7 linked regions of the Homo sapiens genome follow. The protein of the gene in region 7 interacts with the protein of the main gene of each other region in a pairwise test. Each region holds a gene or a part of one and is shown on either strand. Other genes may lie near its edges. The genes, in order: KLHL20, KLF15, UBA52, WWP2, MSRB2, ZSCAN1 and SNCA.

Region 1 (4,354 bases), on a different chromosome or scaffold from region 7:
GTGGGCAACAGAGCAAGTGAGACTCCATCTCAAAAAAAAAAAAAAAAAAAAAAGATAGAATGGCATTTGCAGCAATCTGGATGGAGTTGGTTGGAGACCATTATTCTAAGTGATGTAACTCAGGAATGGAAAACCAAAAATGATATGTTCTCACTTATAAGTGGGAGCTAAGCTATGAGGATGCAAAGTCGTAAGAATGACACAATGGACTTTGGGGATTCAGGGGGAAGTGTGGGAGGTGGGTGAGAGATAAAAGACTACACATTGGGTACGGTGTACACTGCTCGGGTGGTGGATGCACCAAAATCTCAGAAATCATCAATGAAGAACTTATTCATATAATCAAACACCACCTGTTCTCCAAAAACTATTAGGGGGAAAAAAACTATGGTCCTGAGCTGACCACTTTACTGCAAAATAAATAAAAATATGATTTTTTAAAAAGTTGTAAAACAGACCATGTTTTGTCTTTGCTTAAAACCCTTTAATGGTTTTCTAGCACTCTTAGGATCAATCTCAAATTCTTTTTTTTTTTTTTTGAGATAGGGTCTGGTCTGGCTCTCTCACCCAGGCTGGAGTGCAGTGGCACGATCTTGGCTCACTGCAACCTCTACCTCCTGGGCTCAAGCCATCCTCCCACCTCAGCCTCCTAAGTAGCTGGGACTAAGGGTGCACGCCACCATGCCCGACTAATTTTTGTATTTTTTGTAGAGACAGGGTTTCGCCATGTTGCCCAGGCTAGTGTTGAACTCCTGAGCTCATGCAATCTGCCCGCCTCAGCCTCCCAAAGTGCTGGGATCACAGGCATGTGCCACTGCACCAGGCCAATCTCAAATTCTTAACATAGTCTATCAACCTCAGTGTGATTTAGCCCTCTTCTTTCTGTGTAATCACTATGTAACATCCTCTACCCCCCTTGGTCTCTGGGTCTCACTGGGTTTTTTTCAGGTCTTCAAACTAGTGATGCTTTTTAATGTCTTGGGATTTTGCACAAGTTGTTCCAGCACCAAAGTTAAATTTCTCTGTAATACACTCTTAAATCATCCAGGACTGCTTCTTTGTAACACCCATTAACTGTAGTTAATTATTTGTATAATTAAGCATTTAATGATTATCTTCCCTGCTAGATTATAAACTCCATGAATACAGAGACTCTAGATTTCTTGTTCACTATTGTACCCTATGCTCCCAAGCACAGTGGCTGAAACATAGTAGCTTTACAAATATTTGTTAAATAAATAAGGGAAAGATAGGTTTAATGAAAATTATTTTGATAACATCTAAACTCATCTTTTCAGATTATTAGTTTACCAAACAACCTATAATCTATAATTTATTCTGAATAATCCACATAATCAGGAAGGAAATATCTTATATAAATCATGATACCAGGTATCCTATCAGGCATAGATCCTCTTGTGAATTACTCTATTTTGGCTTATAAATAAACCTTTTTAAAAATTTTTTTTTAAATACTTTTATGAATACAGTTAGGGAGAATAAATCCCTAAATCTTAACTTGCTGGTAGAACACAAAATTGCCCTCTAAAATAAAAGCCAGGTTTAGGATTTATAATAACTTATTTATTTGCTATTATGAGTTAGAATCAGCAGGAAATACCCAGGCAAGTGTTATTTAGCAGAATGTGAACCCATATTGCTCTCCAACAAATGGGTGCATTGGAACACCAAGTGCAACTCACCTCTTGAAAGTTATGTTGGGTGAACTTGTCTGCTATCCTTAGCAACTCACGACATGAATGTGTGTCAGCAAAAGCCCGAATGCCCAGGCAGTTAGAAGGATCTAATTGTCTCTTTAAGAATTCACAGCAGGCTTCCTGTATTTCTGCCAGCTGGAGGAGGCAAGCAGCTGGCAGAAGAGTCTGAACATTGCCCTCTTCTACTGTTATCTGGGAGGTATACGCAAAGTCAATCAGTAATTCCATAGCCCTCTCGTCAATGTCTCGGATCACTACTTCTGTCTGACGGCTCTCTGCCAATTCTCCTGTAAACATAGCTCGGAAGTAGGGACTACAGGCTGACAAAATGACTCGATGGGCATATATCTTCTTGGCGCCCACAACTAGCACCACATCACATAGCTCCCGGTGCTTTCTCAGAAGGTTAATCACTTCCAAGGTTTGTCGAGGGTGCTTGTCTGAGATATAGGGCATGCGGGCAGGTTGGGGAACCCCTTCTGGCAGTTTGTTGGGGTCTCCAAGGGTGCAGCGGCTTGTTACATCCATTCCAGTCTCTCCTGGTCGAATGTTGGTACACCTATAGGAATGATGGGGGAGAGAGAGAAGATGGCAGTATTATTATAAGCTCTTTTCTCCCCTTAAATGTTTGTAATTCAAGCGATAAGGAAATGTAATTAGCTTGGTGATTTTTTTTTTAAATTTTTTGTAGAGATGATGTCTCACTGTGTTGCCCAGATTGGTCTCAAACTCTTGGGCTCAAGTGATCCTGTTGCCTCCACCTCCCAAAGTGCTGGGATTGTAGGCATAAGCCAACATGCCTGGTCTACATAAACCATTTAAATTGAGCTACTATAGCAATAAAACTTTTAGATCAGGTGGTTATGCTTATCCATTTTAAAAATTAAGCCCAAGTTAACACGCTTCAATTAATAGTTAAATTTCAAATTAAAGACAATATAAAAAGTTTGGACTGACGGCCTGGTGTGGTGGCTCATGTCTGTAATCCCTGGGAGACTGAGGTAAGCTTATCACTTGAGGCCAGGAGTTCGAAACCAGCCTGGTGAATGTGGCAAAACCCTGTCTCTACTAAAATTACAGAAAAATTAGCCGTGTGTGGTGGCACATGCCTGTAATCCCAGCTGCTTGGGTGGCTGAAGCATGAGAATCACTTGAACCCTGGAGGCAGAGGCTGCAGTAAGCCGAGATTGCATCACTGCACTCCAGTCTGGGTGACAGAGACTCTGTCTCAAAAAAAAAAAAAAAAAAAAGTCTGGATTGAAGTTTATCTTTATATAGAAATCTTTTCTTCAAAGTTTATTAAAATTAAAATAGTAAAGAAAATGGCAAGCTAAATGATGATTTAGCAGGACTCCAAAGAGCCTCCAGGTCAAGATTTTGTTAGATTAATTTGGGTCTAATTTCATATCTAGAGATATTAAATATGATAAGCTTCATTTAAAAGTACTACATATGTTGAATTGCTCCTGTCAAATTGGTCTGAATCACTGAGGTTTCGGTATGATTATAAAATAAGTGAATAAGTTCATAAACAGACATTCTTCAATTTATAAATAAGTAGTATTTAAAAGTTGAATCTAAAAGTTTATTTGGAGGTTTGCATTTTTCTATGGTAAGAGTGCTGTAAATGGGGACTAGGTTTAGTTGTAAAATTCAGTGCCTCATAAGAAGCATTAAAAAATGAAATAGAAAGTAACAGCATACATTTCATTTAGTTAAGCATGTTCAATTGTGTGTATGTACACACACAAATTTGTATAGATACGCATCACTGCTTCCCCTCGTAAACTGCAGGTTATATCAAAAAAGCTTAAATGCCACTGGCCTGAGTTTTGAAATCCCAAGACAAAAGGAACAATAGGTACAAGAAGGGAGAAGGAAAAGAATCTCTCTCTTTTTCAGATTATTCTACCATTTGTTGTTGCTGGGTTTTTTTACTTATTGATTTTTTTTAATTTTTGAGATGAGGGTCTCACTAAGTTGCCCACGCTGGTCTTGAACTCCTAGGCTCAAGCAGTCCTCCTGAGTAGCTGGGATTAAAGGCACATGCCATCACACTGGTTTTTTTTTTTTTTGAGACAGAGTCTGGCTCTGTCACGGAGGCTGGGCTGCAGTGGCGCAATCTCGGCTCACTGCAACTTCCGCCTCCTGGGTTCAAGTGATTCTCCTGCCTCAGCCTCCCAAGTAGCTGGGACTACAGGCATGTGCCACCATGTCTGGCTAATTTTTCGTATTTTTAGTAGAGACGGGGTTTCACCGAGTTAGCCAGGATGGTCTTGATCTCCTGACCTCGTGATCCGCCTGCCTCAGCCTCCCAAAGTGCTGGGATTACAGGTATGAGCCACTGTGCCCAGCCGTTATTGGTTTTTATTTTTATTATATTTTTAATTTTTTAAATGTTTTTTTAATTATACTTTAAGTTTTAGGGTACATGTGCACAACGTGCAGGTTTGTTACATATGTATACATGTGCCATGTTGGTGTGCTGCACCCATTAACTCATCATTTAACATTAGGTATATCTCCTAATGCTATCCCTCCCCCCTCCCCCAACACAACAGGCCCTGGTGTGTGATGTTCCCCTTCCTGTATTCATGTATTCTCATTGTTCAATTCCCACCTATAAGTGAGAACAT
Region 2 (3,491 bases), on a different chromosome or scaffold from region 7:
GTGTGCAGGGGTCTCTGAGGCCACAGGTGCACTCAGTCGCTCAGGCCCTGATGCTGGCTGCCTCTCACCACCCTGGCCTCATCTACCCCACTGGACCAGAACTCCACAGGGGCATCTGTGAAGGCCTGTACAGGACCGCCCATCCGGAGGGGAAACGGAGGCCTGGGAGGAGGAAGCAGCACAGGGAGAGAGGTCCTCAGACTTGAGTCCACCCACTCCTGAAACCAGCTGTGCTGGAAGCTGGGCCCTCTAAGGCAGGCCCAAATAAAGATTGACCCTGCAAAGTGTATCTGGGAGTTCAGGTGGCTCCCGACATTTCGCTTTCTTGGCCCTGCTGGCCTGGGAGCAGGCACTCATGTGACAGTCAAGAGCCCAAGCTGCATCGAGGGCCTGGACTGCTTGCCACCAACCTCAGGGATTTGAGGCCCTCTCCACCCCTGGCTTGGCAGCAGGTCCCTCCCACCCCACCTACCCCTCCCACGACACACTATCCCGCTCTGTGCTCCACCTGCATTGACCTTTCCTTGGTCCTTCTTGCCACAGGCCATTTGCACATACTGTTCCCTCTTTCTAGAATGTTCTTCCCTCCCCCTCCTTGCTCTCTCCTACCCATTCCTTAGAGCTCAGCTCGAATGTCACTTCCTTAGGAAATCCCTCCAGGACTGCATCCAATTCTAGGCTCCTGTGGCATTACACACCTCTCTCTCCTCATTCTTGCTGTTGTTTTGATTTTAAATTATCTTCAACTTTTTGATGACTGTCAGTCTGTCCCACTAGACTGTCAGCTCCATGACAAAGGACATGTTTGTCTTGGTTCCCGGTGGTCTTCCCATGACCAGCCCAATGCCTGGTATATGGTAGGTGCTGAGGAGGTGGATTTCAATGCAAGAGTGGGCACAGCAAGCAGCCCTAGGGGGGCAGACACTGTCAAGGAGCAGTCCCAAAGCATGCACGCACACACACACGGACAAATACATGCCCACACATACAGGCACACAAACATACACGGACGAATATGTGCCCACACATACTCACACACACACACACACAGGCACAAATTCATGCCCCCATGTACTCACGCACACACACACACACAGGGACACGAGGCCCAACACCCCTTTGTGGACCAGGGCCACCCAGCGAGAGGCGGTGCCCAGAGCAGCAGTTCCCACCCAGCAATTGGTAAGGGCTGGTGATGCCCTGGCGCCCTGACCCTGTGGGTGGAAGAGCAGAAGGACCCAGCAGAACATGCTCTGGACAAGGCACAGGGGGTGGCAGGAGGGCCTGCAGGAGGAGACAGGAACTCCGACTCACATCACAGAGTGGTGGTGGCACCAGGCACAGGGCAGTGCTTTCAGCACATCTCCAGACTAGGTGAAGCCCAACTGCCCTGCCTGTCAGAGGAGGAAACTGAAGCTCAGGGTGCTGAGGGCCTGGTCCAGGTCACTGACAAGACAGGGCCCCTGAGGCTGGAGCAGAGGTCTTGACACAGCCCCCTGCCCTGGCAATGGCAGATGACCTGGACTCCCAGTCAGCAGAGCCCCCCAGCCTCCTGTACAGGCCTGGATGGGTGTGTGTGTCACAGGGCCCTGTGCCAGTGAGGAAATGGGATAAATGTGCCCTGGCAGTCAAAGCTGACACCTGTGCTCCTGGGCAGGACACCTGCCCCCAGCTGCAGCTGGGCACACAGCTTCTGAGCAGAGGAGCTGGCCCAGGGCAGGGGTAAGCAGAAAGCTGCAGACACAGAGTGCCACGCCTCCCAGGCTGCAGCCCTGGGGTCACCCAGCATCTCACTGGCCAGGGAACCAGGATGAGCCAGCCCCATTGGACTGGCAAGACCATGGCAAGGGTTTAAAGAGGCCAAGTCACACAGCCCAGGGGACAGAGTCTCAGGCTCCTGCCTTGACAGTTCCCACCCCACTGGGTGCCCTGAATGGTCCTTTCTGGGCCTCAATTTCTTCATTCATCCAATGAAGACTCTGGCATTCCTGCCCACCTTCCAAGACTCATCTCAAAGGCCACAGGTGGTGACGTGGGGCCACACAGATCTCTGGTCATGGTGACACCCTGGGAAGGACAGGCAGATGAGATAGAACCAAGCTGGACAACATGCTGTCCTCACCTGAATTCCCTCCCTGCTGCCACAGGGTCCTGGCACCTGAGAGGAACTTCCCTGGGAACTGAGCCCTCAGAAGACCCCCTGCCTCACCCCTGCATGCCACATTCTCCCAAACAGCAGCCAACAGAGAGCCCTGGGGACTACAGTGGGGGATGTGGGAACCCGGTGGGTAAGATGCAGCCCTTGTAGGCAGTAAGCTCTGCCACTTACCAACCAGGCAAACTAGGAAAGTCACCAAGCTCCCTGAGCCTCAGTTTCTCTACCCAGACAAAGGGAGAACAAAAGACCTATTCCTGAGGACTGTGAGGATTGTACAAGGCAACCAGTAACGGTTTAGAGCCCTGCTTAGCACGTGGCAATTATTCAAGAATGATGAGCTCTTATCACCTGCATGGAGTTGAGTGTTGGGCCTGGTTCCTGGTGGGTCCTGCTGCAGACAGGGCAGCACTATGATTTGTGCTGAGCTGTAGGGCAGAGGGTACACAGGGGTCCAGTGTCTCTCTAGAGCAGCTATAATGTCAGGGCTGGTGCATACAGCACTTCTGTATGAAGGCGTCCCTTCCTTGAGACACTAACCCTCATCCGCCAGACAACACCGCAAACAGTCCAGTCTCAGAAACTGCAATGGAAATGGTGCTCCCTAGAGTTGTGCAGTTCACAACCTGCCCAACCATACTGGGGGCCTCTGCCTACAGAGGGAAGGAGGTCAGAAAAAGCCTCAATGCAGAGGGGTCATGAGAGCAGGCTGGGAGCCAGACCCCTAAGTTTGAATCCTGCACCTACCACCTCTTGGCTCTGACGCTCAAGAGGAGCCTGGAACTCCCCTTCTCTGTCCCCCACCACATCCACTGTGGACGACAAAAGTACCCACCCTACAGGCTGATGACAGTTATTCATATTCATATTCACTGCAGCAGAAGGGATTCTTTCTGGATGGAATGGCTTGGCCATTCTGGAACAGGACGTTCTGCTGCAAGGAACAAAGGATGCCTATGTCTGACAGTGAGGCAAGGAAACTTCTAGGAAGGCAGGCAAGCAGCACTTCCCAGACGGCTGGATCAGAACAGGGAAAGCCTGCTCTCAGCCCTGTTGAGGGTGCCAAAATCATGTCACCAGAGAAGGGACAGGGAGTACTCTTAGGACCAAAAGCAGAAGGAAGTGGAGGCTGAGTACCTGGGCAGGTGACGACCTCAGCAGTGGAGGGAGGGCACTGTCCATTACACAGAGGTATGAGGGGCCTGAGGGGCCCTGGCTTGTTCTCCGAGCACAGGACATGGTACTAGGCCAGAGCCAGCCTGGGCAGAAAGAGCATCCCATTCATCTAGGCCACCAGGAAGAAGAGACGCGGCCTGGGAGTGGAGAGCTCCCCCAC
Region 3 (4,842 bases), on a different chromosome or scaffold from region 7:
TTGAGACAGCACCTCTCTGTTGCCCAGGCTGGAGTGCAGTGGCTGAATCATGGGTCACTGCAATCTCAAACCTATGGGTTCAGGCAATCCTCCTGCCTCCGAAGTAGCTGGGACTGCAGGTGCGCACCACCACACCTGGATAGTTCAAAATAAAACTTTTTTTTGTAGAGACAGGGTCTCACTATGTCTTCCAGGCTGGTCGTGAATTCCTGACCTCAAGTAATCCTCCCTCTTTGACCTTCCAAAGTGCTGGGATTACAAGTGTGAACCACTGCACCCGCCGTGGCACTTTTTTTTTTTTTTTTTTTTTTTGAGATGGAGTCTCACTCTGTCACCCAGGCTGGGTGCAGTGGCGTGAACTCAGCTCACTGCAACCTCCACCTCCCGGATTCAAGCGATTCTCCTGCCTCAGCCTCCTGAGTAGCTGGGATTACAGGCACCCGCCACCACACCTGAAAAATTTTTGTAATTTTTTTTTTCTTTTTTGAGACGGAGTTTTGCTCTTGTTGCCCAGGCTGTAGTGCAATGGCACTCTCTCGGCTAATTGCAACCTCTGCCTCCCGGGTTCAAGCGATTCTCCTGCCTCAGCCTCCTGAGTAGCTGGGATTACAGGCATGCGCCACCACGCCCAGCTAATTTTGTATTTTTAGTAGAGATGCGGTTTCTCCATGTTGGTCAGGCTCGTCTCGAACTCCCGACCTCAGGTGATCCGCACATCTCGGCCTCCCAAAGTGCAGGCGTGAGTCACCGGACCCAGGTCCCGCCCTGGCACTTTTTAACCACCCACAAATCTGGATCCTACACTGAAAAGAGACACTGCAGTGGCTCACGTCTGTAATCCCAGCACTTTGGGAGGCCAAGGCGGGCGGATCACCTGAGGTCGCGAGTTTGAGACCAGCCTGACCAACATGGAGAAACCCCGTCTCTACTAAAAATACAAAAGTGGCCAGGCATGGTGTCGCACACTTGTAATCGCAGCTACTCGGGAGGCTGAGGCAGGAGAATTGCTTGAACCCAGGAGGCGGAGGTTGCGGTGAGCCGAGATCGCGCCATTGCACTACAGCCTGGGCAACGAGAGCGAAACTCCGTCTCAAAAAAAAAAAAAAAAAAAATCCTGAGTCCCGCTTGACACCTTTTGTCAGGCACCACCACCTTTCTGGGCGAATGCGGTAGTACCGTCTGCTCTCCCTGCTGCTGTCCTGAAATCCATTCAGGCACAGCGGCCGAGAGCTTTATAATAACCGATTCCAGGTGTTAGGTGCTTTCCCAGCCCCGACTCCTGCGTCCTGGACCCGCAGTCCTCTGCTTAATACCTTTGCTTTATTAGAAAACATTCTCCTCTACTCCGTTCAGCTATTCGCTGAGGGCCCGCCAACCGCCAGCGGTTGTCAGTGGCCTAGAGGCAGCGGACGCAAACACGGGGAGAGGTGCAATCGTCTCAAGTGACTCGGCGGGCGGGGCCCACAACCGGAAGCGGGTGGGCGACCTTCACCCACGTGCGCTGCGGCTTCGTTCGCCAGCATCCAAGATGGCGGCAGGGCGGGGCCCAAGGCGCGGCGCGAATTGTGACGCAGGCGTCCGGCGTGCTCCGTGCGCAAGCGCTTTCGGCGGCGATTAGGTGGTTTCCGGTTCCGCTATCTTCTTTTTCTTCAGCGAGGCGGCCGAGCTGGTTGGTGGCGGCGGTCGTGCGGGTTCGCGCCGGGCCGAGAGCGGGTTGGGGGCTGCGGGAGGCTGCAGGGGCCTGGGCGGCAGAAGAGGCGGCCCTGAGCTGGCTCATGCGGGCCAGTCTCGGCAGGGTGGCTGGGCAGGGCTCGCGAGGCCACGGCTCGGAGCCCAGACCGGGGCCCAGGAGGCGAGCGCCGTTTTGGAGAGGAGCCTGCCTGCTCTGCCTGCCAGCGTGACCCCACGAGGCCTCGGGCGGGAAGAGGTCCTCGGGGCAGATCCGAGTTAATGAGAGAGGGGTATTGAGCGTGTAGCGTTAACTCTGCCAGTCACTGCGTCAGTCGCTTTGGAAATACTAAATTTCTCGAGCTGAGTCTTCATACCTGGCTCCATTACTACGTCTGTAAGGAGGAGCTGGTGGTAGTGTCTGCTTTTTAGACTTTTCTTTAGACTATTTGTATTTTTTTCAGATGGAGTCTTGCTCTGTCGCCTAAGCTGGAGTTCAGTGGTGCGGTCTCGGCTCACTGCAATCTCCACCTCCCGGGCTCGAGCGATTCTTCTGCCTCAGCCTCCCGAGTAGCTGGGATTATAGGCGCCTGCCACCACGCCCAGTTGATTTTTGTAGTTTTAGTAGAGACGGAGTTTCACCATGTTAGCCAGGCTCATCTTGAACTCTTGACCTCAAATGATCCGTCTGCCTCGGCCTTCCAAAGTGCTGGGATTACAGGCATGAGCCCCTGCGCCCGGTCGATTCTTTGTCTTTTTAAGTCAACTTTTATATGTGAACAATGCTTGGCAGGTGGTTGGTAGATACTAAGTGATGTTCGTGGTTTGGGGTCAAGGCAAGAAGTGGGGTCTGGAGAGTTTTGGTGTAATTGAGAAGGAAGCTAAGAGTGTTGGGTGCTCCAGCTTGGAGTTAGAGAGGAGAGAGGCTGCGACAGGAAGGCATGTGTGTTGTAGGGGATGGCTTCCCATCCAGGCTGGCAGCAGGAGCAGCCTGTGCAGATCAGGACCTGGCTGCCGTGGAAGAGGGTGGGACCGCCTTCAGGGAAGATGGATCTAGCAAGATGATGCCAAAGGGTACTTATTCCATCAGGAGATACTGACGAGTCCTTCCGCCGCTAAACCTAAGGAGAATAACCACAGTCTGTGTTCCTGAAGAGCACCCGTGCGGTCAGGAGGGTGGAGGACATGTGGTCTTTAGTTCCAGGACATGTTTAGACTACAGGCCAGGGTGTGTGAGAAGCCTAGCAGGGCCAGGCTTGGAGGAGTGAAAGGAAGACAGGTACTGGGGCAGGACCAGTTGGACTTGGTGCAGGCAAAGGGATAGCAACTGTGGTGTAGGCACCTGAGCTTGTGCTACTCAGGCATGCATTGCTCACCAGTCTATCCTGCCTCCCTTCCTCCTGCAGACGCAAACATGCAGATCTTTGTGAAGACCCTCACTGGCAAAACCATCACCCTTGAGGTCGAGCCCAGTGACACCATTGAGAATGTCAAAGCCAAAATTCAAGACAAGGAGGGTGAGTAGGGCTGGGTGTGGGGGCTCTGGCTGTGAACTGGGAGTCCCTCTCTGCCCAGGGGAGTCTCAGTCCTGTGTGGGTTGTGCTGACTTTAGATCTGTTTTGCCCTTGCTTCTCCATGTGATCTGAAGAACGTTTGTTATCTTCTACCTCAGTTGGCCTTTTGAGAAACTGGGGGTAGTGCTGGAGCTCCCCTGCAGAGGACACTGCCAGTAATATGGTCCGCAGAGCCTCTAACTGAGCCTCCCTCCCCCTCAGGTATCCCACCTGACCAGCAGCGTCTGATATTTGCCGGCAAACAGCTGGAGGATGGCCGCACTCTCTCAGACTACAACATCCAGAAAGGTACCGGGGTTGGGGTTGCTGGGCAGGGACCCAAGATCCCCAGGTCCTAGGAAAGGAGCATTGATGGCCTCAGGGGTTGGGGAGCAGTTCAAATGACTTGTGTTTTGTTTAAAATAATGGGACTGGGCACAGTGGCTCATGCCTGTAATCCCGGCACTTTGGGAGGCTTAGGCGGGTGGATCACCTGAGGTCAGGAGTTCAAGACCAGCCTGGACAACGTGGTGAAATCCCGTTTCTATTAAAAATACAAAAATCAGCTGGGTGCAGTGGCTCAGGCCTGTAATCCCAGCACTTCGGGAGGCTGAGGCGGGCAGATCACAAGGTCAAGAGATTGAGATCATCATGACCAACATGGTGAAATCCCATCTCTACTAAAAATACAAAAATTAGCTAGGCATGGTGGTGCGTGCCTGTAGTCCCAGCTACTCAGGAGGCTGAGGAAGGAGAATTGCTTGAACTCGGGAGACAAAAAAAAAAAGTCATAATGTGAATTTTTTTATCACTGCAATAAGGAAATTAGTGTCACTTGTGGGAGCGACAAGAATTCAGTGTCCTTTTTTTGTGAGACAGAGTCTTACTCTGTCACCCAGGCTGGAGTGCAGTGACGCGATCTCACTGTGACCTCCGTCTCCCGGGTTCAAGCGATTCCCCTGCCTCAGCCTCCCGAGTAGCTGGGATTACAGGCACCCGCCACCACGCCCAGCTAATTTTTTTTGTATTTTTAGTAGAGACAGGGTTTCACTACGTTGGCCAGGCTGGTCTCTTAAAGTGCTAGGATTACAGGCGTGAGCCATGGTGCCCCGCCTAGACTTCAGTGTCTGACCTTGCCTGAACCACTTAGAGGTCGGCTTCCATGTTAGAAACCCAGATGGATGCCTCAGTTGGCATGTGTCAGTCTCAGACTCCCCCCAGGGCTCGTGGTCAGTGCTGAGATGGAGATTTCCTGGGGCAGGCTGGCTGGGACAGTGTATCTTCCACACGTAGAACACTCGGGGGATCCCGACTTGGTGTCCCCATCACACTTGAGAAAGCAGCAGACTATAGGCCCTGGAGGGTCCTGCCCCTGTGACTGAGGAGCCAGGGCTGGGCTCAGTCGCCGTCCTTCTGGCTGTCTCCTGCAGAGTCCACCCTGCACCTGGTGTTGCGCCTGCGAGGTGGCATTATTGAGCCTTCTCTCCGCCAGCTTGCCCAGAAATACAACTGCGACAAGATGATCTGCCGCAAGTATGTGTGCTCCGATGCTTGGGGGGCTGTGGGGGCTGCCGGAGTCGGGGTATGCCCTCACCCACCCCTCCTGTCTCTGTGCAGGTGC
Region 4 (4,354 bases), on a different chromosome or scaffold from region 7:
TTGAACCCAGGAGGCGGAGGTTGCAGTGAGCCGAGATTGCATCACTGCCCTCTAGCCTGGGCAACAAGAGCGAAACTCCTTCTCAAAAATAATTAAATAAATAAAAAATAACAAGTACCAAGACATGGCAGTCCTGACCTAGGGCCCGTCCTCTTCCTCAAGTCACCCATGCCTTTTGCTTCTTGTTTTGTCTTCAGATCTGCTTTCCAGTCAGCCTCTTTTATTCTTAGCCTGTAATTCCACGGGGCTTCCAATAGTGTACCTCCCTGCTCCCTCCCGTTTTCTCTTTTTCCGTGCTTAGTCTTTGTAAGGATGTCATTTGGCAAAGTTGATTCTGTTTGATTGTTTTTCAATATGGGCCTTTGGAGAATGGAAGGTAGTAACTCAATGCTGGACAGAGGAAGGAGGCCAAGAAAGAAGCATTAGTGTTGGAGTAGCATGAGCCTGTGAAGAACAGGAGAATCTTTTGGACAGAGCTTTTCCTTGCATATCTTTCAAGAAATGAGTGCAGGCTGGGCGCAGTGGCTCACGCCTGTAATCCCAGCACTTTGGGAGGCCAAGGCGGGTGGATCATGAGGTCAGGAGATCGAGACCATCCTGGCTAACGTGATGAAACCCATCTCTACTAAAAATACAAAAAACTAGTCAGGCGTGGTGACAGGCACCTGTAATCCCCGCTACTCGGAAGGCTGAGGCAAGAGAATTGCTTGAACCCGGGAGGTGGAGGTTTGCAGTGAGCCGAGATTGCACCACTCACTCCAGCCTGGGTGACAGAGCAAGACTCCATCTCAAAAAAAAAAAAAAAAAAAAAATAGAAGTGGGTGCAAGGTTTATCTCTAGTTAGAAATAAGCTCTGCCTGTTTCTACAGCTGGTTAATTAGAAATAAAATCTTTGTGAACCCATGGATTATATTGAAAAAAATTTTTTAAAACAAGAAATAAAATATTGATACTGGTGTGTAATTTCTGCTTTTCCCTGGCTCCTTCTACACAGGTCTTTTCATCTCAAGATCGGTGTTCACTGGTTTCTTGACTCAGAGCTGGGTCAAGAATTTTAGGAATTGAGGTGCTTGTAATGCCAGAGCCAAGAATTTCAGTATCGAGAAGTGGTTTTGTTTGTAGTTGATATTTGAAGAGCTCTTACTGTGTGTCCTCTGCTTTACCTGAATTCATGTAGTCAGTACAGTAATCTTATAAAGTAAGTACTATTATTGGGTTCATTTCACAGATGAGAAAACTGAGATTTAGAGAGGGTAGGTATGATTTTGTGAAATATATATTTAGTCTTCCTCCCATTTCCTGGCCTATAACTCCTAAAATCATTGAAATCTCCCAAGTGATCAGTGTCTTTTTTTTTTTTTTTTTTGAGATAGAATCTCGCTGTGTCGCCCAGGCTAGAGTGCAATGGCATAATCTCGGCTCGCTGCAGCCTCTAAGCGATTCCCGTGCCTCAGCCTCCCAAGTAGCTGGGGCTACAGGCACATGCCGTCATACCCAGCTAATTTTTGTATTTTTAGTAGAGATGGGATTTCGCCGTGTTGGCCAGGCTGGTCTCGAACTCCTGAGCTCAGGTGATCTGTCTGCCTTGGCCTCCCAAAGTGCTGAGATTACAGGTGTGAGCCACCACACCTGGTCAGTGTCTTTTTGTGTGCTAATAATTGACCTTTGGTTGGGGACTCCTGGATAGTCTCAGGATTTGGGGGCCAGTGGCCAGGGAAACCAGCCTTGTAGTTAGAGGGTTGGCACTTTTAGTCCCACACCCAGCCTCTGGGACAGGGAGAGGGACTGAAAGTTGACTTGATCTGCAGTGGCAGTGACTTAATTGATCATGCCTGCGTAATGAAGCTTCCATAAAAACCCTGAAGGACTGGGTTTGGGGAGCTTCTGGATGGCTGCACACGTGGAGGTTCTTGGAGGATGGCACCCTCAGAGAGGGCTTGGAGGCTCTGTGCCCCTTCTCACATGCCTCGCCCTACGTCTCTTCATTTGTATCCTTCATAATATCCTTTATAATAAATCAGTAAATGCAAATAAAGTGTTTCCTTGAGTCCTGTGAGTTGCTCTAGCAAATTTATCAATCCTAAGAACCTCGATTTATAGCCGGTTGGTCAGAAGCACGGGTAAAACAACCTGGAGCTTGCAATTGATGTCGCAAGTCAGGGGCAGTCTTGGGGAACTAAACCTGTGGGATCTGATGCTATTTCCAGGTGGATAGTGTAGGAACTGAATTAGAGGACACCCAGCTGGTGTCTGCCAGCTGCAGAATTGATTGCTTACTTGGTATGTGGGGCTCCCACACATCTGGTGTCAGAAGTATTCTGTGGGGCTGGGCGTGGTGGCTCACACCTGTAATCCCAGCACTTTGGGAGGCAGAGGTAGGAGGATCGCTTGAGCCCAGGAGTTTGAGATCAACCCGGGCAGCATAGTGAAATCCTGTCTCTATTAAAAAAAAAAAAAAAAGGTAGTATTCTGTGTTGTGAGAGTATAGCAGGAAGAAACTGAGTTTGCTTTTTCCTCTCCATCCTCTCAGTAAGTAACTTGCTCTGGATCACTCAAAGGCAAATGAGTGGTTCAGCTTATTAGCCTCCAGAAGATTGACAGGTCTGAAAGGTTGTTGCTGAGGTAGGGTGATAAAAGTGATCAGGTGCTTCAGGTATTGCAGGAGCTGCCACTAGCTTAATCTGATGTGTAGTTGTTTTCTCCTGTCAAAAGTTCTGTAATAATTATTATTTTTCTTTTTGAGATGAAATCTTGCTGTGTCTCCCAGGCTGGAGTGCAGTGTGCTATCTTGGCTCACTGCAACCTCCGCCTCCCGGGTTCAAGCTATTCTCTTGCCTCAGCTCCTGAGTAGCTGGGATTACAGGTGCCTGCCACCATGCCCGGCTAATTTTTGTATTTTTAGTAGAGACGGGGTTTCCCCATGTTGGCCAGGCTGGTCTCGAAATCCTGACCTCAAGTGATCCACCCGCCTGGGCCTCCTAAAGTGCTGGGATTATAGGCATGAGGCACAGAGCCTGAAGGACTGTAGCTTTGTAGTAAGTTTTAAAATTGGAAAGTGTTAGTCATCCAACTTTGTTCTTTTTCAAGATTGTTTTGGCGATTCTGGGTTCCTTGCATTTCCTTACTTTAGGATCAGCTTGTCAATTGCTGAAAAACAATTCTCTTTTTCTCTCTGTTTGTTTTTATATCTGGCTTTTTGGCCAAGGACTTCTGCAATGTTTGTTGACATTTAGGTGTGAAGTACACATGTATGCTAGGACCCAAGTGCGGGAAGGTGAGTTGGGTGGGGGAAATTGACCTTTTCAGTTTATAATGTAGACTTTCACTGTCTCGCTGGGTCAATATGGTGCCTTATCCCTATTGTCAACTATGCCTGAAGTCTTGAGTTTGGTTTCACCTGTTGAGAAACTAAAAGTCTTTTTAGTCTTTTTTTTTTTTTTTTTTTTTTTTTTGAGACAGAGTCTTGCTCTTGTTGCCCAGGCTGGAGTGTAATGGTGTGATCTTAGCTCACCATGACCTGTCTCCCAGGTTCAAGCTATTCTCCTGCCTCGGCCTATCCCAAGTAGCTGGGATTACAGGCACGCACCACTACACCTGGCTAATTTTGTATTTTTAGTAAAGACAGGGTTTCATCATGTTGGTCAGGCTGGTCTCGAACTCCCGAACTTGGGTGATCCGCCTGCCTCGGCCTCCCAAAGTGCTGGACTAAAAGTCTGCTTGGGATTAGGAAGGGGCAACTGCTTGGTTGAACTGGGTGGGGAGGGGACTCTGGGACTCTAATCATTCCCAAGATAGGCTTTTGCCAGTCCTCCTGTTTTTAGCCCCACTTCTGCCCTTACTTTCGGAGGTACCTGTACTACTGATGCAGGGCACGTGAGCCCCAAAACTGGGGGTTAGTCTGGGTAGGTTCTTGGCTTTGCCCTGGAAAGAATTCAAGGGCAAGCTGGTAGTAGAAGAAAACAGCTTTATTGAGGCAGCAGAGTTACAGCTCCGTGACTGCTCCTGCAGAGCAGGGCTACGCTATAGGCAGTGTGTCCCTAGTAGCAGCTCAGGGGCAGTTTTGCTGTCATATTTATACCCAGTTTTAATTATATGCAAGTTAAGGAGTGGGCTATTAGACATTTCTAGAAAAGTGGTAACTTCTGGGGCATTACCATGGCATTGGCACACTGTCATGGCACTGGTGGGTGTGTCTTGTGGGGAGGTGCTTTTGGTGCCTCTTCCCTGTTTCAGCCAGTCTTCAGTCTGGTCCTGAGTCGAGTCCTCCCTCCTGCCTCACCACCAGTGATTGACCCTTTCTGGAATTCTTCATTGCCAGTCTGCTTGCCTTCTGTTGACCTCTCTTGTGGGCAGC
Region 5 (4,354 bases), on a different chromosome or scaffold from region 7:
GCTCCTTATCCCTGCTCAAAAGAAGGTGAAGATCCTACCTCTGTTCTCATCTCTGTGGAAGGTTAGAACCAGGAAAGGCCACATTAGAGAGAGGCTGGAGAAGACTTTTCTCTTTTTTGCAGTGCCCAGATTGAAGGGAGAGAGTGATCGTTATTGGCATGTGTAGAAACCCCATGTGTTCTGGGCTGGGTGTGGTGGCCCACGCCTGTAATCCCAGCACTTTGGGAGGCCGAGGCAGGTGGATCACTTGCGGTCAGGAGTTTGAGACCAGCCTGGCCAACATGGCGAAACCTCATCTCTACTAAAAATACAAAAATTCACTGGGTGTGGTGGCAGGCACCTGTAATCCCAACTACTCGGGAGGCTGAGGCACTTGAACTCAGGAGGTGGAGGCTGCAGTGAGCTGAGATCATGCCACTGCACTCCAGCCTGCAAAACAGAGCGAGACTGTCTCAAAACAAAACAAAACAAAACAAAACAAAGCAAAACAAAAAAGAAACCCCATGTGTTCTGAAGACAAAAGAAAGTACCCCTATAAAAGGACACCAGATTTGCCAAGAACAAGAGAGCTCTTTGTGGCATTGGGGGCAGCATCAGGGAAAGTAAAACAAAATGAGAAACCTCACCTGCTTGCAGACAACCTCTGTGCGAGCTGATCCTAACGAGGTATCCAGACGTCTCAGGATCCCTGTGTGGCTTTCATCAGAGCCAGACGTACCATGAGCCTCGGAAAACGAAGGCCACCCAGTGCCAGAGCAGTACTTTTTCTCAGAACTGTGGAAGACATAAACGATACTACAGCTGCTAATGACACTGTCATTAACATGCCAAGAGGTGCCCCGATGTGTTGTTCCAGGCAGCAGGATCTGTTCCCACTCTCCTCTGCCAGATCCCATGCCCAGTTATTCGACAGTCAGTCCCCCCGGAATCGTCCTCACTGCACCTTCACTATCGAAGCCATTGCCTCTCGAAGTGGAAGGACTTCTTGATCCTTTGATGCTAAAGACTTCTTTCTGGATATCCAACAAGGATCTAAAAACACATGGTGTTTTGTGAACTGTGTTGCATATTAGGTAACACAGATCAAACCCATGTGTTGAAAATGTCAAAAGGGGAGAAATCAAAACGAAATACTAATGCTCGGAGGAAGTCATCATCATCTTAGAGCAGCGCAGAAGTGTAAGGTCTGATGAGAAAGTCATGCTTGGCAACAGGAATTTCAGGTTATCTCAACACAGACGCCTGACCAGGGATTCAAAAGCTGCCTCTGGCCACTTCTTAGCTGTGTGAAACCACAGCTCTTGAAGCCTCAGTTTGCTCACCTAGCAAATGGGAATAATATCTACCCTACAGGGCTGTTTTGAGGATTTGAGGGGAAACTGAAGTGTGACATAAAGCTTAGCACGGTGCTGGGCACATGGTAAGTTCCCTGAATGCTTGCTGTGATGGTGATGATTAGTATTAATTAATACGCCTGGGTACCTGGCATCAATCACTGCAGTGAAACCTAACCCTCCAGAAGTCTCCCAGGGACTCATGATGCTGGCACAAGGAGAAGGACAGCAGGCAAATCCACTCACCAAAGACCCACCCTCTAAGTGCTCTCATGGATAAGCTCCCTTAAATGGCACTGGGAAAATAGACTTCAAAAATTGCTGTGGCAAGGAAATGGCTCTCTCTATCTAAGGAAGAAAGAGAAGAACTGAATGTTAGACCCAGCCAAAAAAAAAAAAAAAAAAACAAAAAACTAATCTAAGAAGAAAAAGTAGCAAAGAATCAAATCCCTAGACTATGAACACAGAAGGAAGCCTAGCTGGCAGCACAAACTCCCACAGAAACAATTGTGTAATGCAGCAATTCTCAAACATTTTGGTCTCGGCACCCCTCATGTCCCCTCTGTGTCCCCAAAATTAATAGGGATTGCTGAGAGCTTTTGTCTGTGAGTTACGTATGTCAACATTTAACAAATTATACATTATAAATGAGAATTTAAAAATATGTGTGCATTAATTTTTTTTTAATATAGGTTGAGTGCCCCTTATCTGAAATGCTTAGGACCAGAAGTGTTTCGGATTTCAGATCTTTTTGAATTTTGCATTTTACTTGATGGCTAAGCATCCTTAATCTGCAATACTCCAGTGAGCATTTCCTTTGACTAGCATGTTGGTTCTCAAAAAGTTTCGAATTTTGCTGGCGTGGTGGCCCACGCCTATAATCCCAGCTTTTTAGGAGGTGGAAGCGGGTGGATCACTTGAGCTCAGGAGTTCGAGACCAGCCTGGCCAACATGGTGAAACCCCCTCTCTACTAAAAATAGAAAAACTAGCTGGGCATGGTGGTGCATGCCTGTAGTCCTAGCTACTTGGGAGGCTGAGGCAGGAGAATAACTTGACCCCAGGAAGCAGTGGTTGCAGTGAGTGGAGATCAGTCAACAGAGCGAGACTCTGTCTCAAAAAATAAAAAAGTTTCAGATTTGGGTGCATTTCAGATTTCGAATTTTCAGAGTAGAGATGCTCAACCTGAAATAAATTTATTATATGTTAACATAACATATATTTAAGGCAAATAATTATACTTTTCAAAATGAAACAAACATTTCATGAGAAGAGTTGCACTGTTTTACAATTTTGCAAGGCTCTTTAACATCCGGCTTAAAAAAAAGACAACTGAATCTTCATATGTGCCTCTGAATTCAGTCTGTTGCTATGTTGTTTTGATTGGAGTATAAGAGGATGTGGCCTCAAGTGGTCTCAAGTGTGGTTGGAAAAGCCCCTAGAAAGGTCCCCCCCAGGAATCTCTGGGGTCCTCAGACCAGGCTTTAAGAACCACAGGTATAGCCATTAGAGGAAGGGCTTTGACTTCTGAAAGATTTGTGTGTGAATCTGGGATCTGTCTGTTACATCTGTATCACCTTGGCAAGTCATTTAATTTTTTGAAGCCTCAGCATCCTAGTCTATAGATAAGTATAAACTAAAAATAAAGTTCTAAGCCACCCACTGACTGAATAGAGCCCTTCTTGGCCAAGAGGACTCCAGAAAAACCTTTAAATCGAGTTTCCGGTCATGATGGGACAGGAGGTCAGACACACCTCATTATACCCTCTCCCTTTTGTGGTTTAGACACAACAAATGACCAGCATTAATGTTTAAATAGAGATCATAAGACTGGCAGAACAGCCTCTTTGTGGCAATAATATACCAAATTATAAACAGGACCTAAGGCCATGCCAGGCGAGGGTGAAGTCATGCACCCCTACACTTAAAGAATCAACTCTAACTGCCACAGGGGTTTTCTTCTTCTCTAGCAGCTAAACAATCACTGGCCTTGAGATAAGCAGTGTTGAAGCAATTGCAGCTCATCTACCATCAGACACTGACTAGCTGAGACCCTCTGTTCCACCAGCCGTAACTACAGCTTTGATTGCACAAGAGACTGATTTTAGTAACTTTCTCCTGATTAAAAGACCATGAAGTGGTTCTGGATGGTTTACAGAGGCTGTGCACTTGTGGGCCTTCATATCCTGAAAGACCTTTTGATGTATAGGATCTAATTATAATACATTTAAATGTTAAGTTTCTACCCCCAAATAAACATAGGTCATATGTTACATGCATGTTTGTTCAATATGTGTATGTCAGGACCATCTTCACAAATTTTCATAGCCCCTTCTGTGATCTGTTAAATAGGTATATTTAGCCAACCCTCTCAGCATAAAGCTCCTACCCCAGCTGCTCCCCCTTCCAAGTGCCTGCATCTGCTCTTGGCTGGGAGCTCGCTTCCCAGCCTGTAGGATGGCCACCTTGAAGGCTGTAACCCTTTAGAAGAAATAAAGTCTCCTTTTCTAAATTTATAGATTGTATGATTGTTTTAAGCTAACAATAGCAATGGCATTATCACCTCACTTTCTGTGTGTGTGCTTAGCATAGTACCTGACACATGGCACTTGAGTTGGTAGCTATTTTTTAATATTTTTTTATTATTAATACCAGAAATCTATGGAATGTGAGCAGTTGTGGGTCCAACTAGAAATGTCTGCATATTCAGGTCGGATTCTTTGCAACCCTCCTCCAGGGGTTCAAAAACATTCATCTGGCCACTCTGCTCAGGGAAAAACATCATTAAGTATCTTTTAATCCCAGTCTTTCCATCCTCAACATTATATATCAACTAGTGATCATTAAAGGTATTTTGATTGAGAATTATGAATACAATAAAATTTTTTAAATAAATGAAACTAAGGCTAATAAAAACTCATTAAAGCATTTTATGGGAAACAATAAACCTTTATTGATGCAATTAGCAGAATCGGGAGATTTTTACCAAGTAATATGAGAGGCCTAACATATATAAGTTAAG
Region 6 (4,961 bases), on a different chromosome or scaffold from region 7:
AAGAGTGAGACCCTGTCTCTAAATAAATAAATAAAATAGAGCTATTAAGATAATTCCTCAACAACAGTAAGTTGCCAGGCATTCATATTTCCTCCTTTATTCTTGTTTCATTTTGTTTTGTTTGAGACGGCGTCTCGCTCTGTCGCCAGGCTGCAGTGCAGTGGTGCAATCTCAGCTCACTGCAACCTCCGCCTCCTGGGTTCAAACGATTCTCCTGCCTCAGCCTCCCGAGTAGCTGGGACTACAGGTGCACGCCACCACACTCAGCTAATTTTTGTATTTTTAGTAGAGATGGGGTTTCACCATGTTGGCCTAGATGGTCTCGATATCCTGACCTCTTCATCCTCCCGCTTCTGCCTCCCAAAGTGCTGGGATTACAGGCGTGAGCCACCACGCCTGGCCCCTTATTCTTGTTTTCTTTTTCTTGGTTGCTTGGTTTGCATCAGGACTCTCCCAGGGTGTGACATGCATCTCCCTCCCGCCTCCAATCTCCCCACCTGTCATCCCTGAAACAATAAACCTGGGTCCACCTCTGGAAGGATAAGAACCCAGATCTGTGGCCAGTGGCTCACCGGGGCTATGGGGATGTGTTTGCATTTGAAGGTACAGATAGGGCCCCGGGAATGTCTTGGTTTCTGTGCCTGACCCAAGTGTGTCGATAGCTCCTCTGATGCCCCCTGAGAGTCAGGGGAACTAAGCATGCCCCTCTCTCCACACATACATGCCACCCACTCTTCTCTCCACGCAGCCCCTCTGCTGCCCTTGATTAGTCACAGACGCCAAGGTGGGTGAAGTAGGGAAGAGCCTGACTGTCCACAATGGCCCCCAGTAGCCAGGTACCAGGAAGAGGCGTAAAAGGGAGTCCCGCCTTTACTCCTATAGATGGTGGCTCCTCTGGTTACGATTTCAGAATTCAACATGTTTTACAATCAAAACTAGCATTTGATAAGAAATAAAAATCAATAACCCAGCCAAACACACCATCCACATACTCCCAACGTGAGAGCAGGAAGAATCTTGTGCCTTAACTCCCTTCCTGCCATCAGCTCCCTCCCTCCCTCCCTCCCTCCTCCGTCTCTAGCCCAGCAATCCCTCTACTCCAGTTTTGCCCAGCTATTGGGAATCTTGGACAGCTTCCTTAGGCCCCTGTGCATCCAGGTAGGGTTGGGGCAGCAGAAAGCGAAGACCCACTCAAGACAGACCTTGTCAGTGCGTGCTTGACTCCTGGTCTTTTCTGATGCTTTGTTTGACTCAACATACCTCCTCCAACAACCTGATTTGCATTGATAAGTGTCACTGTGTTTTCCTTTGACACGACTCCGTTGCAGTTTGCCGAGCCCTTGATGGTACCAGGCTCTGGGCACGTAGCACCCACATCCTCACTGGAAACCCAGAGAGCTAAAGCTCCTCATCCAGGGCCACACAACAAGCAGGGCTGGAGCCTGGACACCAAGCCAAGCCCCTCTGTTTCGAATTCTTGCTCTTCAACCACAGCTCAGTCTCCTCCCAGGAAGTGGTGATCCCCGCTTTGGGCGGGACACGGTTAGGTGCATCAGAGGTCATAGGTCGCAGGTGGGATGTGAAGTCTGTGAAGTCGCCCACTTCCTCTGGGCTTGTGGGCAAGGACAGTGCAGCCTTGGGGGACGGGAGTTAGGAGCCCCAGCTTGTAACAGTGACCCGAGCTGTGGCACAGGTCCCCTGGCTCCATCTAATGCTCTGTTGTCACTGTCCTGAAATGATCAACGATCTTTGAACAAGGGGATTTGCATTTCCATTTTGTACAGGGGCCCCTCGAATTCTGTCTCAGGTCCTGTTAAGAGCTCTTTAGGAGTGGTTATTTATTTTTTGTATAAGCAGAGTCTTGCTGTGTTGCCCAGGCTGGTCCCAAACTCCTGGCCTCAAGCAATCCTCCAGCATCAGCATCCCAAAGCACGGGAACAACAGGCGCGACACCGCGCACTGCCCTGGGACAGAGCCTTTGGGGATGACGCCCGTTCCTTGGTTGTTCGGTGGTGGTGGGGAGGATGGCTCCTGAGGGGCAGCTGCCGAACAGTCCTGTGCTTGCCATTCTAGGCGTCTGAGCTGATTCTGGATGCAGTGGCAGCAGCCCCAGCACTCCCCGAGGAAAGTGAGTGGCTGGAGACTACCCAGCTCCAGCAGAGTCTGCACACCAGGGCGGAGGCCGAAGCGCCCCGCGCCCCTGGCTTGCTGGGTGAGTCTGGCTCCTGTGTGGATTAAGGGTTGGAAATGGAGTTTGGGACTTCAACCCAAAGCCACAGACTTTGTTAATGGGTTGAGTTGGGTGCTTCGGTGGTGAACTCCACACTTCCCCCAGAAAGCATGCACACCTCCTGTGAGGACTGAGATCTGGGGCCCCTAGAACCACCATGTACATCGTTCACCCTACGAGAAGGGCCTCAGCCTCCGCACCTGAACGGCAGCCAAGGCAGACAGTCTGAGAGTGTTGGAGCACGGGGTTACCCAGAGGGCCAGCCAGGTAGGAACAAGGGCCAGTGCTGTGGGATCTGCTCCCAAAACATGTGCCTTTTTTTTTTTTTTTCGAGACAGAGTCTTGCTCTGTTGCCCAGGCTGGAGTGCAGTGGTGTGATCTTGGCTCATTGCAACCTCCGCCTCCTGGGTTCAAGCGATTCTCCTGCCTCACCCTCCTGAGTAGCTGGGATTACAGGCGCACACCACCACGCCCAGCTAATTTTTGTATTTTAGTAGAGACGGGGTTTCACCATGTTGGTCAGGCTGGTGTCTAACTCCTCACCTCATGATCCACCTTCCTCGGCCTCCCAAAGTGCTGGGATTACAGGCATGAGCCACTGCACCGGCCACATGTGCCCTTGTATCTTAAAGGACAGAACGGAGGACACAGGGGCCGTATTGAGCAGAGGAAGGGCCTGGACTTGGCTCAGTCACTGGGGTCCTCCGTGCCCCTGGGGAGCACAGGGAGATGCCAAGGCCATCCACTCACTACAGGTGACCCATCTCCCTCGCCCTCCACAGGGTCCCGGGCCCGCTTGCCTCTGAAGCCGAGTATCTGGGACGAGCCTGAGGACCTTCTCGCAGGGCCCTCCTCAGACCTGCGGGCAGAAGGGACTGTGATCTCGAGCCCCAAGGGTCCAAGTGCTCAGAGAATCAGTCCCCGAAGGAGAAACAGGAACACTGACCAGAGCGGCCGCCACCAGCCATCCCTCAAGCACACCAAAGGTGGTACCCAAGAGGCTGTTGCAGGCATCTCGGTAGTGCCGCGTGGGCCCCGAGGTGGGCGGCCCTTCCAGTGTGCCGACTGTGGGATGGTCTTCACCTGGGTCACCCACTTCATCGAGCACCAGAAGACCCATCGCGAGGAAGGGCCCTTTCCGTGCCCCGAGTGTGGCAAGGTCTTCCTGCACAACTCCGTCCTCACTGAGCATGGCAAGATCCACCTGCTGGAGCCACCGAGGAAGAAAGCCCCCCGGAGCAAGGGCCCCCGGGAGTCCGTCCCACCCAGGGATGGAGCCCAGGGCCCAGTGGCCCCTCGCAGCCCCAAAAGACCCTTCCAGTGTAGCGTCTGCGGGAAGGCCTTCCCCTGGATGGTCCACCTCATTGACCACCAGAAGCTCCACACGGCCCACGGCCACATGTGAATGGCCAGCCTCGGGCCTCGGCCACCCGGCCCTGAGTCCCTGGGGGGAGCTGATGGGCCCCAGAAGATGGGGGACATCCCCCAGCCCCACCAACCCCTGGCCACCTTGGGACTCCTCTTGAAGGACACAAGCTGTTTCTCGGAAGACCCTGGACACCTGCTCCGAAGCCAAGCACGGGATGGGGCTTCCCAGGGTCTCAGCTGAGAAGCAGCAGTTCCACAGCACAGCCTGGTCAGTCCTGCGCACTATAGTTTTGCAAGTGGCTTGAAGAGGAGTTTCATTCGCGTCCCATCTTTCAGAAGCCTTGTCCAGGTCTCCCTGTTAGCACCTGACTCAGCGGCAGCTTCTGCCGCTGGGTTTTCATTTCACTGTGGATATCCCTGAGGCCATGAGGGTGGGAGCCGGCCTGGGCAGCTCCAACTCCAGAGAAGGGTACAGCTGACCCCGGCTGCCCTCCTGCCAGCTTAGCCCCCTTGGAACCTAACAGATAAACAGGGTTTTGTTTTTTTCCTTTTTTGGGTAAAGTACATGCAACATAAAATTTACCATTTCAGTCATTAAAAATGAACAGTTCAGTGGCATTAAGCACATTCACAACACTGTGCAACTACCAGCACTCTCTAGCTCCAAAGATGTTTTCGTCTTGCCCAGAAAGAGAGCCCACAGTCCTCAGCACGCCTTCGCCATTCCTGCCCGCCCTGACAACCAGAATCTGCTTCCTGTCTCTGAGGATTTCAGGCGCAGTCTTTAGGCCTGACCAAAACTGACCTGCCTGTATTTTGTTTGACTTACAGAAGGATTTTTTTTTTAGATAGATGCCAACATTTGTTTAAACCATAAAAATCTGGCTTTCTGGTCTGCCAGGAAGGATCAGATGGTCTCCAAAGAGTGGGCCCGCCTCTCCTGCTAGGCTGGAGCAGAGTGTGGGCAGGCGGTGACGTCACAGCGGGGAGCCAGCCTCGGACTCGGCTTCTCACCCGTCCCCAACTCATTGTTGTCGGACACTCGTCCCCTTTCAAGCAAAAGCCTTAAAAGTTTTTGCCTTTTTCTTTTTCTCCTCCCGACTTCACTTGGAAACACAGTGTTGGGCTGACTGTGAATCCGCACAGGCAGAGACATTTTTCCAAGTCGCCTTCTAAATCAAAAGCCTTTGGACTTACCCACGTCACATCCGCCTGCTGCTGCTTCTCAACCAAGCTGCCCCCACTCTCGGCCTCTGTCCCCGATGGCCCTCTCGGGCTGTGCAGGTCCCACGGACCCACCGCTGCCTTCACTTCATCCTCGCTGCCGCGCTTGCCTTCTCACGCTTGCCTTCTCGGAGCGCCC
Region 7 (4,354 bases):
TCAATCAAAATAAAATTAACAATCATATTGTGTTGTTTAAAACATTATACTGGAATATATCAATTGTCGCAAATCATGCATTTATCTTTTTATTCTATAACTTGTGTGGGTAACTTTTATTTTACTATGCGTCATCCCATTGGACATGTATGGCAAAAAATAATAACCTTCCTTTGGCATTCCATTGATTTCCCTAACTTTCCATTTAGAAATTTATTTTAGAATGTAAAGTTTCTAAAAATATATTCTCTAATGCAGGGGTTAGTAAACTTTTCCTGTAAAGGGTCAAGTAGTAAGTATATTAAGCTATGTGGACTACATATGATTTCTTTTACATCCTTTCTTCCTCTTCTTCATCTTCCTCCTCCTCTTTTTTTTTAAGGACCCTTTAAAAATGTAAAAACTATTCTTAACTTGCAAGTTGTCCACGTAATGAGCATGTAGAGAGCAAATGATTCTCACTAAGCACTAATGAAAGAGAAATGTGACAATGACAGGTTTTTGGTACTGTCTTGTTAGAAAGATTCAGCTTGGACTCCTACCTCAGAAGGCATTTCATAAGCCTCATTGTCAGGATCCACAGGCATATCTTCCAGAATTCCTTCCTGTGGGGCTCCTTCTTCATTCTAATATTTAAAGTAAGAAGCACAAAAAGAACATGATGAAGTAGCATTTTTCACTTTTAAAAATCAGAACCATGTTTTGGAAAAATCTTACATATAGGGATGTTGGCCACGGATCTTGAAAATGGCACACCTTAATATTACTACTGGCATTCTAAACTCCACAATGCCTCCGGGGAAACATTGCGGCAACATGGGTTATCAACCCTCAAAGTATGTAAACTTTTTGCTCAAGTAATTTACTATTTAGGAAATAATCCACAGCTATAGTCCAAAGATATTTTTCACAAGATCAATGACAGCAGGAAACAAAATTTTTAGAATTGTTAACTAAATGTTCAATGAATAATGAAGAGTTAAAAAATTATTGCTGGGTGCAGTGGTTCACTCCTGTGATTTCAGCACTTTGGGAGGCTGAGGCAGGTGGATCATTTGAGTCCAGGAGTTCAAGACCAGCCTGGGCTGTTACAATGAAACCCCATCTCTACTAAAAATACAAATAAATAGCTGGGCATGGTGGCACATGCCTACAGTCCCAGCCACTTGGGAGGCTGAGGCAGGAGGATCACTTGAGCCTGGGAGGTAGAGGCTACAGTGAGCCATGTGCATGCCACTGCATTCTAGCCTGGGTGACAGAGGGAGACCTTGTCTTAAAAAAAATTATCATTCAACTACTCAGTAGATTATGATAAAGACCTGTATTACTATTACCTGAGAATTATGTAACAACTACCTATTTATGGTATAATATTTAGCAGGCTATAAAGTGTTGTCTATATTATAGATACAACCTACACAGAATTCAGACGCAAAGGTAAAAAGTTTGGAAGAAAACACAATAAAATATGAAAGTTATTTTGTTGGATAGTATGTATGTTATTTTGACTTTTTTTCTAAGTGTTTAACTTTTATAACCACTTATAATGTAAAAGCATACATATTTAACACATTAATTTTAAATGACAATGAAGAAACAAATTCTTTTCTGAAATTTGAAGACTGAGACTATACATATTGAAGGAAAATAATCAAATACATGGTCAGAAAATTTTTCTAGGTATCTCTTCCTAGACAAAGAATACTACAAAACTCAGCCTGAAATGGTCATGGCTTTGTTGGTATTCTTCACTAAATACCTTTTGTTGCTTTGCATTTATTTCAGCAAAGTAATTATAAGAAGATAAAGGTAAGTGAAAATTCAAAGAACAGAGAGGCAATGTGAGCCTAAAGGGACTTGGAGAAAGAGATCAAATAATCCCTCAGCCAACGCGGCTGATTTTCAACAACATGTCTGATGTAAAAAAGCTTCCCCATGTCTTCACATGGAAGTGACTGACAGGGACGCAGAAGTATAAGAAAATGGCTAACAGTAAGAAAAGGTCACACTAAAGATCATGCTTATGGTAGGTGGGCAGAGAAGCTTACAGATCATTCTGCCCTTGCCAATGCCCTTTTTATAAACTAAAAAAAATCCAAATAATATATAAATTAAATAAAATATGAACCACCCCAAACTACCTCACTTTAAAATGTGGAGTAAACATACTGTTTTCGTAGTGTTTCACTTCTTGGTAGATACGCCTCTGCTGCAGGATGGCTAGGCACAAGGCCTTCCATGTCACAGGACTTGAGCTCAAGTCCTAGCTTCTCTAGATGACAGAGCTTTTGTGATGCTGAGAAGTTTCCTATGCTTTTTCTGAGTGTCAATTAGTCTTAGTGATCAAACGGGACAGCAAAACCTTCTTTACAACAGGGAGAAGGAAACGACATCATTAACTTTCTCATTAATATTTAGATTACTGTTAGGATATCCAAGTATAAGGGAAATAAGGCAAATTTTTTTCCATGATTTTGAAACTGACAGAGATTTGATTTTCTAATATAATTTGTTAGAAAATTTTGATATGGACCAGACAAGTAAATATGGCAGACCTACCCTGTTTGTTGTTTGATGATCAAAAAGGAGTTGTTATGACGGAACTAAGACTGATGGATATTACTGGATTTGTTTATATGTTATTTGGCTGAACTTTGAAGGATGTACACAGATGTGTAGGTTAGGTGAGTGTGTGTGTCTGCATGGTTCCAGCCTGGGTGAGTGGGTGTGTACAAGAGCACCCTGCAGTAATGGAACAGCGTCCTGTCCGGGGTGGGTTCCCATATTGCTCCCTGAGCTGCCAGGATAGGCTCCAACCACCTGCGGCCTCCACCGAAATAATTAGGTAAGTTATTTGACTTGTTTGTATTAATCTTTCTTAAACGTATATATAGCTCACATTAATTTCAATGTTTAATGTCAGAAGTGATTTATCTTTATTTAGGAGTTTGATGGTGTTTTTGTGTCCAGAAATTTGCCATAGGACTTAATTCTTGCTTATATCAATTAGCCAATGGTAAAACTGGTTTTGTTATATGTTGTTTTGCTTCAAGTCACAGTTTCCAGAAACTATTGATGAAGTTAAGTGAGGATTTACTGTATTATGTGCCCTCTGATGGAAGTACATACACATCACCATCTTAAACTAAGACTGTACTAGTTTAAGTGGGCTATTGTTCACTGATCCAATAACTTCATCAAGTGGGAACAAGCTACACTAGGGATGACAGCACAATCCTATTCTAGAGTCCAAATCGACAATAGGGTTTACGACCTCGATGTTGGATCAGGTCATCCTAATGGTGTAACTGCTATTAAAGGTTCGTTTGTTCGACAATTGAAGTCCTACATGATCGGTGAGGTCAGGAGATCTATAGCATCCTGGCCAACATGGTGAAACCCCATCTCTACTAAAATACAAAAAGTTAGCCGGGCGTGGTGGTTCTCCTATAGTCCCAGCTACTCGGGAGACTGAGCCAGGGGAATCACTTGAACCCGGGAGGTGGAGATTGCAGTGAGCCCAGATCACACCATTGCACTCCAGCCTGGTGACGGAGTGAGACTCCGTCTCAAAATAAATAAATAAATATATAAATAGAAAAAGAAAACAAAAAAAGAAAAGCCCTACGTGATCCGAATTTGAATTTGATTAACATTTAACTATCACTGACAACTTACAGCAAATATAAGGTGGTGAAAAACATGTTCATTGCTTACAACAGTGGCTACAATCAGCAAATTTTGCACTGTGAGAAACTACACAAGACAAAGAATACGTCTAATTTCAATAAGTAAATTGCAACTAAAAAGAAGTTAGTGGGAACCTGCCGCTTAAAGTAGAAGTGAGAGAGCATTAGCCAATTGCAACCTAAGAACTTTATTTCATTCTCATTGGGAACCCTACATAAGCAAATGGAAAACACATATGAGGTAGTTGGGGAAATTTGAACACTGACTTGATATTTAAGAATTATTGTTTATTTCTTTAGGTGTGATGATATATTGCAGTTTTACTTCAAAAAGTTCTTAACTTTTACAAATTAATTAAATGTTTACAGATCAAATAAGATATCTATCTAGGTTTGGGTGGGGGAAATGGGTGGGATATAGAAGAAACATGAGTTTAATATTTCATCAGTTTTAAAAAGTATATACAGTAGTCTCCTTTTATCCGTGGTTTTGTTTTCCATGGTTTCAGTTGCCCACCACCAATTGCAACCCCAAAATACTAAGATATTTAGAGACAGAGAGAGAGGGAAAGAGAAAGCGAGACCATACCCACATAACTTTTATTACAGTATATTATTATAATTGTTCTCTTTTGTTATTAGTTATTGTTGTTAATCTCTTACTG

Evidence for each region.
Region 1: the proteins of SNCA (region 7) and KLHL20 interact in binary tests that used the Homo sapiens proteins (3 or more experiments, as listed by UniProt).
Region 2: the proteins of SNCA (region 7) and KLF15 interact in binary tests that used the Homo sapiens proteins (3 or more experiments, as listed by UniProt).
Region 3: the proteins of SNCA (region 7) and UBA52 interact in binary tests that used the Homo sapiens proteins (3 or more experiments, as listed by UniProt).
Region 4: the proteins of SNCA (region 7) and WWP2 interact in binary tests that used the Homo sapiens proteins (3 or more experiments, as listed by UniProt).
Region 5: the proteins of SNCA (region 7) and MSRB2 interact in binary tests that used the Homo sapiens proteins (3 or more experiments, as listed by UniProt).
Region 6: the proteins of SNCA (region 7) and ZSCAN1 interact in binary tests that used the Homo sapiens proteins (3 or more experiments, as listed by UniProt).

The regions. Positions count from the first base shown.
Region 1 is NC_000001.11:173,731,636-173,735,989, reverse strand, and holds part of KLHL20 (kelch-like protein 20), read right to left. Parts: intron 2,278-4,354; coding exon 1,704-2,277; intron 1-1,703. UniProt on the Homo sapiens protein: Substrate-specific adapter of a BCR (BTB-CUL3-RBX1) E3 ubiquitin-protein ligase complex involved in interferon response and anterograde Golgi to endosome transport.
Region 2 is NC_000003.12:126,344,522-126,348,012, forward strand, and holds part of KLF15 (Krueppel-like factor 15), read right to left. Parts: intron 1-3,491. UniProt on the Homo sapiens protein: Transcriptional regulator that binds to the GA element of the CLCNKA promoter. Binds to the KCNIP2 promoter and regulates KCNIP2 circadian expression in the heart. Is a repressor of CCN2 expression, involved in the control of cardiac fibrosis.
Region 3 is NC_000019.10:18,570,219-18,575,060, forward strand, and holds the start of UBA52 (ubiquitin-ribosomal protein eL40 fusion protein isoform 1 precursor), read left to right. Parts: upstream 1-1,638; 5' UTR 1,639-1,691; exon of another isoform or gene 1,692-2,389; intron 2,390-2,621; exon of another isoform or gene 2,622-2,729; coding exon of another isoform or gene 2,730-2,742; intron 2,743-3,074; coding exon of another isoform or gene 3,075-3,082; coding exon 3,083-3,185; intron 3,186-3,443; coding exon 3,444-3,530; intron 3,531-4,651; coding exon 4,652-4,754; coding exon of another isoform or gene 4,755-4,838; coding exon 4,839-4,842.
Region 4 is NC_000016.10:69,768,527-69,772,880, forward strand, and holds part of WWP2 (NEDD4-like E3 ubiquitin-protein ligase WWP2), read left to right. Parts: intron 1-4,354. UniProt on the Homo sapiens protein: E3 ubiquitin-protein ligase which accepts ubiquitin from an E2 ubiquitin-conjugating enzyme in the form of a thioester and then directly transfers the ubiquitin to targeted substrates.
Region 5 is NC_000010.11:23,115,724-23,120,077, reverse strand, and holds part of MSRB2 (methionine-R-sulfoxide reductase B2, mitochondrial precursor), read right to left. Parts: intron 1,033-4,354; coding exon of another isoform or gene 903-1,032; exon of another isoform or gene 775-902; coding exon 627-774; intron 1-626. UniProt on the Homo sapiens protein: Methionine-sulfoxide reductase that specifically reduces methionine (R)-sulfoxide back to methionine.
Region 6 is NC_000019.10:58,050,417-58,055,377, forward strand, and holds the end of ZSCAN1 (zinc finger and SCAN domain-containing protein 1), read left to right. Parts: intron 1-2,073; coding exon 2,074-2,212; intron 2,213-3,012; coding exon 3,013-3,635; 3' UTR 3,636-4,215; downstream 4,216-4,961. UniProt on the Homo sapiens protein: May be involved in transcriptional regulation.
Region 7 is NC_000004.12:89,728,652-89,733,005, forward strand, and holds part of SNCA (alpha-synuclein), read right to left. Parts: intron 627-4,354; coding exon 543-626; intron 1-542. UniProt on the Homo sapiens protein: Neuronal protein that plays several roles in synaptic activity such as regulation of synaptic vesicle trafficking and subsequent neurotransmitter release.